Homo sapiens: one gene and its partner. The main gene of each other region encodes a partner of the protein of the gene in region 2 in a complex. Each region holds a gene or a part of one and is shown on either strand. Other genes may lie near its edges. The genes, in order: TADA3 and YEATS2.

What was found.
Region 1: YEATS2 (region 2) and TADA3 share a complex: the UniProt entries of both Homo sapiens proteins name them as parts of the ADA2A-containing complex.

The regions. Positions count from the first base shown.
Region 1 is NC_000003.12:9,785,791-9,789,600, forward strand, and holds part of TADA3 (transcriptional adapter 3), read right to left. Parts: coding exon 3,719-3,810; exon of another isoform or gene 2,015-3,718; coding exon of another isoform or gene 1,938-2,014; intron 1,551-1,937; coding exon 1,409-1,550; intron 1,320-1,408; coding exon 1,216-1,319; intron 1-1,215. UniProt on the Homo sapiens protein: Functions as a component of the PCAF complex. The PCAF complex is capable of efficiently acetylating histones in a nucleosomal context. The PCAF complex could be considered as the human version of the yeast SAGA complex.
Region 2 is NC_000003.12:183,696,397-183,700,769, forward strand, and holds the start of YEATS2 (YEATS domain-containing protein 2), read left to right. Parts: upstream 1-1,400; 5' UTR 1,401-1,597; intron 1,598-1,681; exon of another isoform or gene 1,682-1,814; intron 1,815-4,373. UniProt on the Homo sapiens protein: Chromatin reader component of the ATAC complex, a complex with histone acetyltransferase activity on histones H3 and H4. YEATS2 specifically recognizes and binds histone H3 crotonylated at 'Lys-27' (H3K27cr).

The DNA of each region.
Region 1 (3,810 bases), about 170 Mb from region 2:
TGCCTGTCCAGTTGTACTTCCCAGGCTCTCTTGCAGGCGGGTATGGTCATGTGACAAGTTCTCTCCAGGGGAAAGTGATCAGAAGAGATAAGAGCCATAGCTAGGCATGGGCCAAAAAGTTTCCTTCACACACTCCTCCTTGTTTTGTTTTGTTTTTTTTTTTTGAGATGGAGTCTCACTTTGTCACCCAGGCTGTGGAGTGCAGTGGCACAATTTCGGCTTACTGCAAGCTCCGCCTCCTGGGTTCATGCCATTCTCCTGCCTCAGCCTCCCAAGTAGTTGGGACTACAGGCGCCTGCCACTATGCCCGGCTAATTTTTTTGTATTTTTAGTAGAGACGGGGTTTCATCATGTTAGCCAGGATGGTCTCGATCTCCTGACCTTGTGATCCGCCCGCCTCAGCCTCCCAAAGTGCTGGGATTACAGGCGTGAGCCACCGCGCCCGGCCTCCTTGCTCTTATTCTGTGGGACTGGAGTGACAATTACGCCCAGAGTGACCTTGTGCAGACTGCAAGGCCACCGTCAGCTGGGGTCCCTGTCTGATGATATGAGATAGAGACCTGCCCCTTCCCCTACCTTAGATAACCTGCAACATGTACCCAGACTGTTCCATGAGATAAACTCTTGTGTTTGAGCCAGAATAGAAAACTGAGTCTCAATGAGGTGAAAGAGTGTGAGGGTGTGTCTAAGGTCAACCAGCAGGTATAAAGACAGGGCCCCTGAAGCTAGGGTTTGAATCCTGGTGTGTGAGACCTCAAGTGAACAGTTCCCTTTTCTGAGCCTCAATCTTCTTATCTGTAACACAGCGTTAACCACTGTCCTGGCCTCCAGTGGGAGGATGTGTATAAAGCCCCTCCAACAGATGCTTAGCAAAAGTAATTGTGGAGTAAGGCTACCTTTGGGGAAAGTTGGAGAAAAACAGGGGCATGAGAGGGGCTTCTAGGATATAGTAATGTTTCATTTTGTAATCTCCAGGCTGGTAATACAAGCTCATTTGTGAAAACTGTACATTTATGATCTGTGCACTTTTCTATTAGGTGCACAAGTTATATATTATTCCCAATCTTTTGCTATATATTAGTCCAGGTTTTTACTTTTGCACCAACCTATTTTTGCACCAACCTAATAAATGTATGATAAATTCCGATAAAAAATAAGCATAACACATTAAAACACAAAGTAAATATGGTTCCTCTTTTGGGTTAGGCTGCTCACCTCCACCAGGGCCTGCAGGAGGCGCTGCGTCAGGGCACCAAAGGGGCATCCATCTTCCGGCTGTTCATGCTGGGCCTCAGACTTCTTCAGCAGGGCATCCACATCTAAGCGGGCACAGGAAAGGAGGGGAGGTGGGCTGAAGTTCTGGAATTCAAGTCCTGACCTGGGGTTGGCAGGGAGGTGAGAGGCCTACCTTTAGTGTCCAGTTCGGTCAGTGGCCCCATGAGGCCTTTCTTCTTGTCAGCCACAGCCGCTGCCCGGGCCCCATCCTTCTGCTCCTCCAGCAGGTCCTCCTGGGCCCAGCGCTGGGAGTAGTGCTTCCCCAGGGGTGGGATCTGTGGAAAAGATGGCACCCAACCCTGAGTGGGTAAGCACTGGCCAGCCATGCTTCATTCATTCATTCACTTACCTATCTTATATCTCTCTCAAGTCCCTAGTCCAAGGCCAAGCCCAGTGTCAGGTGTAGGTAAGAAAGTACAACGAAGATAAAACCTGTACTTCACACTCTAGTAAGGGAGACAGGTCCAAAAAGAACTAAGACACACACACAGAAGCCAATCTGAAATAATTCCCAAGATAGAAGGTGCAGAATACGTACACAGATTGTCTCAGGTCACAGCAATTGCCTCTCGAGAGAATTAGGAGCCTTCAGGTCACGGGTGACAGGGAATTACCTTTTGTATTGCTTGAATTTACTGCTGTCTGTATGAACTCTTTTTCAGATAAATTTTTAAGAAATCAGATAAGTGAAGTGAAAGAGAGAGATCAAAGTGTTGTGGCAGCACAAAGGAGAGACTGACTAACTTTCTGCTGGGGAATCTGAAAGAGTGCTTTGGTGGAGGTAACATGAGATCAGGGCCTTGAAGGGTGAGTCAAGTCTGTCAAGGAGACAAGAGGGAGAGAAGAGCTTGCCAGAGGCCCAGAGACCAGCGAGGAGGCTGTGGTGTCCTGGAATGAGGGCGAGATACTTGGTGGGACTGGTCAACACGGCAATGAAGAGGGATATGGCCGAGGAAAATGGAGAGGGGCACTGGAGCTGTGCCAGCAAGGACTGGGATGCGTGGACTTGATCCTGTAGATAACGGGAGGAAGAAAGGCCTGGATGCAGCGCCATGTCATGAGCACATCTGATCATGACAGCTCACCTATGGGAGGATTCTCCCTCAACATTTTTCTGTATTTTCTAAATTTTCTTTAATGGAGCATGTTTTATTTATTTTCATCATTAAAACATAGTTTTATATCTTCTTTTTTTTTTGAGACAGAGTCTTGCTCTGTCACCCAGGCTGGAGTGCAGTGGCACAATCTCAGCTCACTGCAAGCTCCGCCTCCCGGGTTCACGCCATTCTCCTGCCTTAGCCTCCCGAGCAGCTGGGACTACAGGCGCCCGCCACCACGCCCGGCTAATTTTTTCTATTTTTAGTAGAGACGGGGTTTCACCGTGTTAGCCAGGATGGTCTCAATCTCCTGACCTTGTGATCTGCCCGCCTCGGCCTCCCAAAGGGCTGGGATTACAGGCTTGAGCCACCGCACCCGGCTTTTTTTTTTTTAATGGATGGAATCTCCTTCTGTCACCCAGGCTGGAATACAGTGGCACGATCTTGGCTCATTGCAACCGATGCCTCCCCAGTTCAGGTGATTTTCCTGGCTCAGCCTCCCGAGTAGCCAGGATTACAGGTGCATGCCACCGTGCCAGGCTAATTTTTGTATTTTTAGTAGAGACGGCGTTTCACCATGTTGGTCAGGCTGGTCTTGAACTCCTGACCTCAGATGATCTGCCTGCCACAGCCTCCCAAAGTGTTGGGATTACAGGCGTGAGGTGACTTTTATATCTTTTTTTTTTTTTTGGAGACGGAGTCTTGCTCTGTTGCCCAGGCTGGAGTGCAGTGGCGTGATCTCGGCTCACTGCAACTTCCACCTCCCGGGTCCAAGAGATCCTCCTGACTCAGCCTCCCGAGTAGCTGGGACTACAGGCGCACACCGCCATGCCTGGCTAATTTTTTGTATTTTGGTAGAGATGGGGTTTCACCATGTTGCCCAGGCTGGTCTCAAATTCCTGAGCTCAAGCAATCTGCCCGCCCCGGCCTCCCAAAGTGCTAGGATTGCAGGCATAAGCCACTGCTCCCAGCCCAAGTTTTATATCTTAAAGAAAGAAGAAAGGTTCCTCCAGAGGCCTCGAAACAGGAAGAGAGTTAAGAGGCTGTTTGGATAGAAGTTGATGAAGGCTTGGACCAAAGCAGAGGGGATGGGGATAAAGGAACATGGGCAGACTTCACTTAAGTAGATGCTTGAGGGCGTGTTGACATTTGGCTGGGGTAGAGGGGAGGCAGTGCACGGAGAAAGCTGAGTTTGGGCCTAGGTGTCTGGAGGCACTGATGGAGCAGACAGCAGACTGGGCAGGGTTGGGGAAGGAAGATGATGCATGGCTTTGGTAGCTTTACTTCTCAGGCACCTCTGAACTCTCTTGTTCCGCATCATGTCTATCAAGGCCCAGAGTTTCTACCTTGTAATGCTCAGCCTCATCTTCTGGGGGCTTCAGTAACTCCTCAAGTGTGCGGACCTCCTCGCTGGTGATGTCAGCACAGTAGGGCTCCA
Region 2 (4,373 bases):
TAAGGTTCAAGGAAGCCTTTCTTAGTTTTTTTTTTTTTTGAGATGGAGTTTCACTTTTGTTGCCCATGTTGGAGTGCAATGGCTCACTGCAACCTCCACCTCCCGAGTTCAAGTGACTGTCCTGCCTCAGCTTCCCAAGTAGTTAGGATTACAGGCATGCCCAAATACACCTGGCTAATTTTTGTATTTTTAGTAGAGACGGGGTTTCACCATGTTGGCCAGGTTGGTCTTGAACTCCTGACCTCAGGTGATCCGCCCGCCTCAGCCTCCCAAAGTGCTGGGATTACAGGCATGAGCCACCGTGCCCAGCCAGGAGGATCTCTCGAGCCCGGAAGTGTGAGACTAGCTGTGGTGATAGTGAGACCTGTCTAAAAAAACCAAAATTAGCCTGGGGGTGGTGGTTCACGCCTGTAATCCCAGCACTTTGGGAGGCTGAGGCGGGTGGATCACCTAAGGTCAGGAGTTCGAGAGCAGCCTGGCCAACATGGTGAAACCCTGTCTCTACTAAAAATACAAAAATCAGCCAGGCGTGGTGGCGCGCGCCTTGTAATCCCAGCTACTTGGGAGGCTGAGGCAGGAGAATCGCTTGAACCCGGGAGGCGGAGGCTGCAGTGAGCCAAGATCATGCCACTGCACTCCAGCCTGGCAACAGAGGGAGACTCTATCTCAAAAAAAAAAAAAAACACAAAAAACAAAACACCACTTATATTTATTATGCGTTGATAAAAACATTAAATACATTAAAAATTTGGTAACATGTATGTAAAGTATAAAAAAAAAAGTGAACTTCCTAAACCCACCACTCAGCTCCAGTAGTAAATCGTTATACAGTGAGAAGGGATTGAAGGGGAACAGAAGTTCCCCAAGACCAGTTGGGAGGCTATTCATAGTCTTGGGCAGAGAGATTACAGGGTCTTGGGTAGGGTGGTAGAGTTACAACGAAAGAGAATGTTGGCCTCAAGTGATATTTAGGTGGAAAACTGGACTTGGATTGTCACTAGCTAGTGTGACTGAGATAAGTCTCAAGCCTTCCCTGCCTCAGTTTCTTCATCTGTAAAATGGGCTAGAAATAACTACTGTTATTTTGTATACCCAGCACTTAGCACATGGGTTGGCACAAAGATGGCACACACAAACATCATAGTCACTATTGTGATTAATAGGGAAGCTCATACACGCCGGCAGAATGAATATTCTGTCAAACTTGGGGTTGAAATTCGCCATCTTCTGGGGCAGGAAAGTGATGGACGACTGTGCCTTTGCAAGAATCGACGCCCACACTGCCCAGGAAGTGCCCTCGCGGGCCGGGGTCCCAGCCCGGACCAGCCCCGCCCCGCCCCGCCCCGCCCTCATCCCTGGGAGCTCCGCCCCGAGGCCGCGCGCGCCGCCGCGCGCGCCCCGACGCGCCCAGCTGCTGACGTGCGGGGCGGAACGCGCCGGGCGGGCTCCACCGCGCCGTGTGCTTCCGCAGGTTGCGGGGGTCGCTGGGGCCTTGTGGCGGGGCAGCTCCGCGGGGCTTCGCCCGCTCTCTCACCTCGCCGTGCTCTCTCGCGGCGGCCGGCGGGGCCCGCGCTGCAGCCGGAGACCCGGAGAAAGGGTGAGTGTTGGCGGGCGCAGGAAGGGACCGGCCGGGAGCGCGCCCCGCTCTCCGGGGCATTGTTTGGGCGGGGGCGGCGCGGGCACGTGCGCGCCCCTCCCCCATCGGCAGGCAGCGCGGCAGCGGGACCCGGTGAGGCCCCGGGGCCGAGGGGAGGGCAGGGAGGATCCCAGGTGCGGGCCGGGGAGCCGCAGAAGCGGGAGCCTGGAATTGGAACGTGAGTTGGGGGCTTCCTCTTCAGCGGGGCGCTGCGCTGAGGGGATACGGGACCCCGAGCCACAGCGGCCGGAGCTTTTAGGATGTTAAGCTCTTGGCCTTGGAGGCAAGATTTGGCCCCAGCACCAGAAAGTCGTGGGTTTACCGAAAGGATCCTGGAATGCCCCTCCAACCTGTCGCCATCCCCACCGGGCCTCCCTGGGATGGAGGGGAGGGGTCAGAGAGGCTTTGGGGGTCCAGGGATGGGGCCGGGGCCAACGCGCCGGAGCTGCGGGCAGTGCGGGGCGGAGTGGAAGCCTCGGAAAGTGAGGACTCCTGCAGGAAAGGCTGGCTTGAAGGGCTGTGGCCAGACTGCAGAAGACAATGAGGTTTTCTCCATCATGAATGTGATTATGTTAAGAAATAGAAACCAGAGGAAGAGAAATGCCATCAGCAATCTTACAGGCCTGACACATCATTTTTTTTTAGTTTGATGTTGGCTAGTATTTTCATCTAAGCATTCAGCAGTTACAGAGTTGACCCACGTTTTCCATTCCCTTTTCTCGCTCACATGTAAAAAATGCGGTATAATATTATATAGAATTCAGCAATATCATTTCCCCTTTCTTAATGAGTAGAGGGTATTCAGCGTAGAAAAATTTAAAAATACAAGCAAAGCCAGAGAAAAATGCCCGCAGTTTTACGATCTAGAGATACTACCCTTGGATGTATATTCCTGTTTGTGTATACTCTTTAAAAGATAGGGCAGATGATGCCCTGATAAGGAGTTTAGTTTTTCCCGGGAAGCCTTTGAAGGTTTTGAGAAGGCGAGTAGCATGATCCGACTGCTATGTAGAGGAAGAGGGCTGGGGAGGAACCTACGAGGTCAGTTACTGTGCTCTTTGCAGTAGCTTGGACTAGGCCCGTGGCAGGGAGATGGGGAAGTATAAACAGATTTTTAAATGTTTTAAGGTAGAATGAACAAGACTTGGATTGGTGAGGGAATGGTGGGAATCTTTGCTTTTTTGATTTTTGTTTTGAGCAACTGAGTAGGTGGTGGTGCTGTTTACTGAGATGAAGAATGGAAGAGAGAAATTTGAGGTGGGAAAAACGAATTCTATTTTAGATGTATTAAATTTTAGATGCATGTTAGTTATGAAGTCGGTGTGTTGAGGCAGTTGGATGTAGAGGGCTGGAACTCAAGGAGGAGAGAGGCTAGAGCTAGAGATAAAAATCTGGGAGTGGCTGGGCGCGGTGCTCACACCTGAAATCCCAGCACTTTGAGAGACCGAGGCGGGTCGCTTGAGCCCAGATATTCTAGACCAGCCTTGGCTACAAGGCAGGAAGGACCCCGTCTCTTAAAAAAAAAAAAAATTGGGAGTGATCTGTACGTAGATGATATTCAAAGGTATGGTGCTGTGTGAGATCACTGAGGGGAAAGAGTGTGGAGAAGTGAAAAGGGCGCAGACACTCAAATACCTCTAGGTCTGGTAGAGGAAGAAGGTTGGGGAAAGGACGCAGGAAACAGCAAGTGAGGTAGGAGAAAAAGCTCCTACCAAAATGGCATGTATCATGGCAGCCAAAAGAGGTGTTTCTGGAAGATGTTGAATTGGTCCTTTTATCAGGGCTTCTGAGATGTTCATTAAGATTGTCAATTGAATTTGGCAACACGGTGGTTATTGGTTTTGGTCATTGGTCTTCCTGTCCATAGTTCTGGAAGTGGGAGGTGGGAACCGGATGTGAGGAAATGAAACTAATGAGTGCAAATTAGAAAAAAAGTGCCCCATTTCCATCTGCCCCAAAACTAAACTTAATCGATGAAAAATGGTGTCTTGTGTTTTTTTCATTTATTGATTACTAGTATGTTTGAACATTTTTTTCCCATTTATTGGCTGTTTGTGAATTTCTTTTCCTGTTCTCTGTCATCTTTTGTTATTTCCTAATTGATTGTCAAAAGTTCTTTAGATATTAAAAATAGGTAGCTTGACATACAGCATGCAGAGTTCTCCCCACATGTTTCTCAGTTTCAAATGCTTCATGTTCATTCAGTGGATGCATGATATTTTACTGTGGGTTATTTTTTATTATAAAATCCATAGGAAGAAGAGAATTAACATTTAGGTTGTAGATCTCTGAGTGTAGCCCACATACGATGTACATTACCCTGTATTTTCTTAGAATAGATTCTCAGAAATAGTTGGTCCTGTCCTCTTCTCATCAACTACGGATTTTTATTTGAATGTTCATTGCCACGTTCTTGGATTGTTCCCTATCTCCCTGCCTTTGGTCCTGCTCTGCTTTCAGTCTGTTTTCTGTCGTGATACCCAGTAGATGGTGGGAGTTGATGCAGTTTTCTCACAGAAAACAAGACTTGTGAAGCAGATTTTTTCTTTTTCTTTTCTTTTCTTTCTTTTTTTTTTTTTTTTTTGAGACAGAATCACAGTCTGTTGCCCAGGCCTGTAATCCCAGCTGCTCGGGAGGCTGAGGCAGGGGAATTGCTTGAACCCGGGAGGTGGAGGTTGCAGTGAACGGAGATCGCGCCACTGCACTCCAGCCTGGGCGACAGAGGGAGACTTCGTCT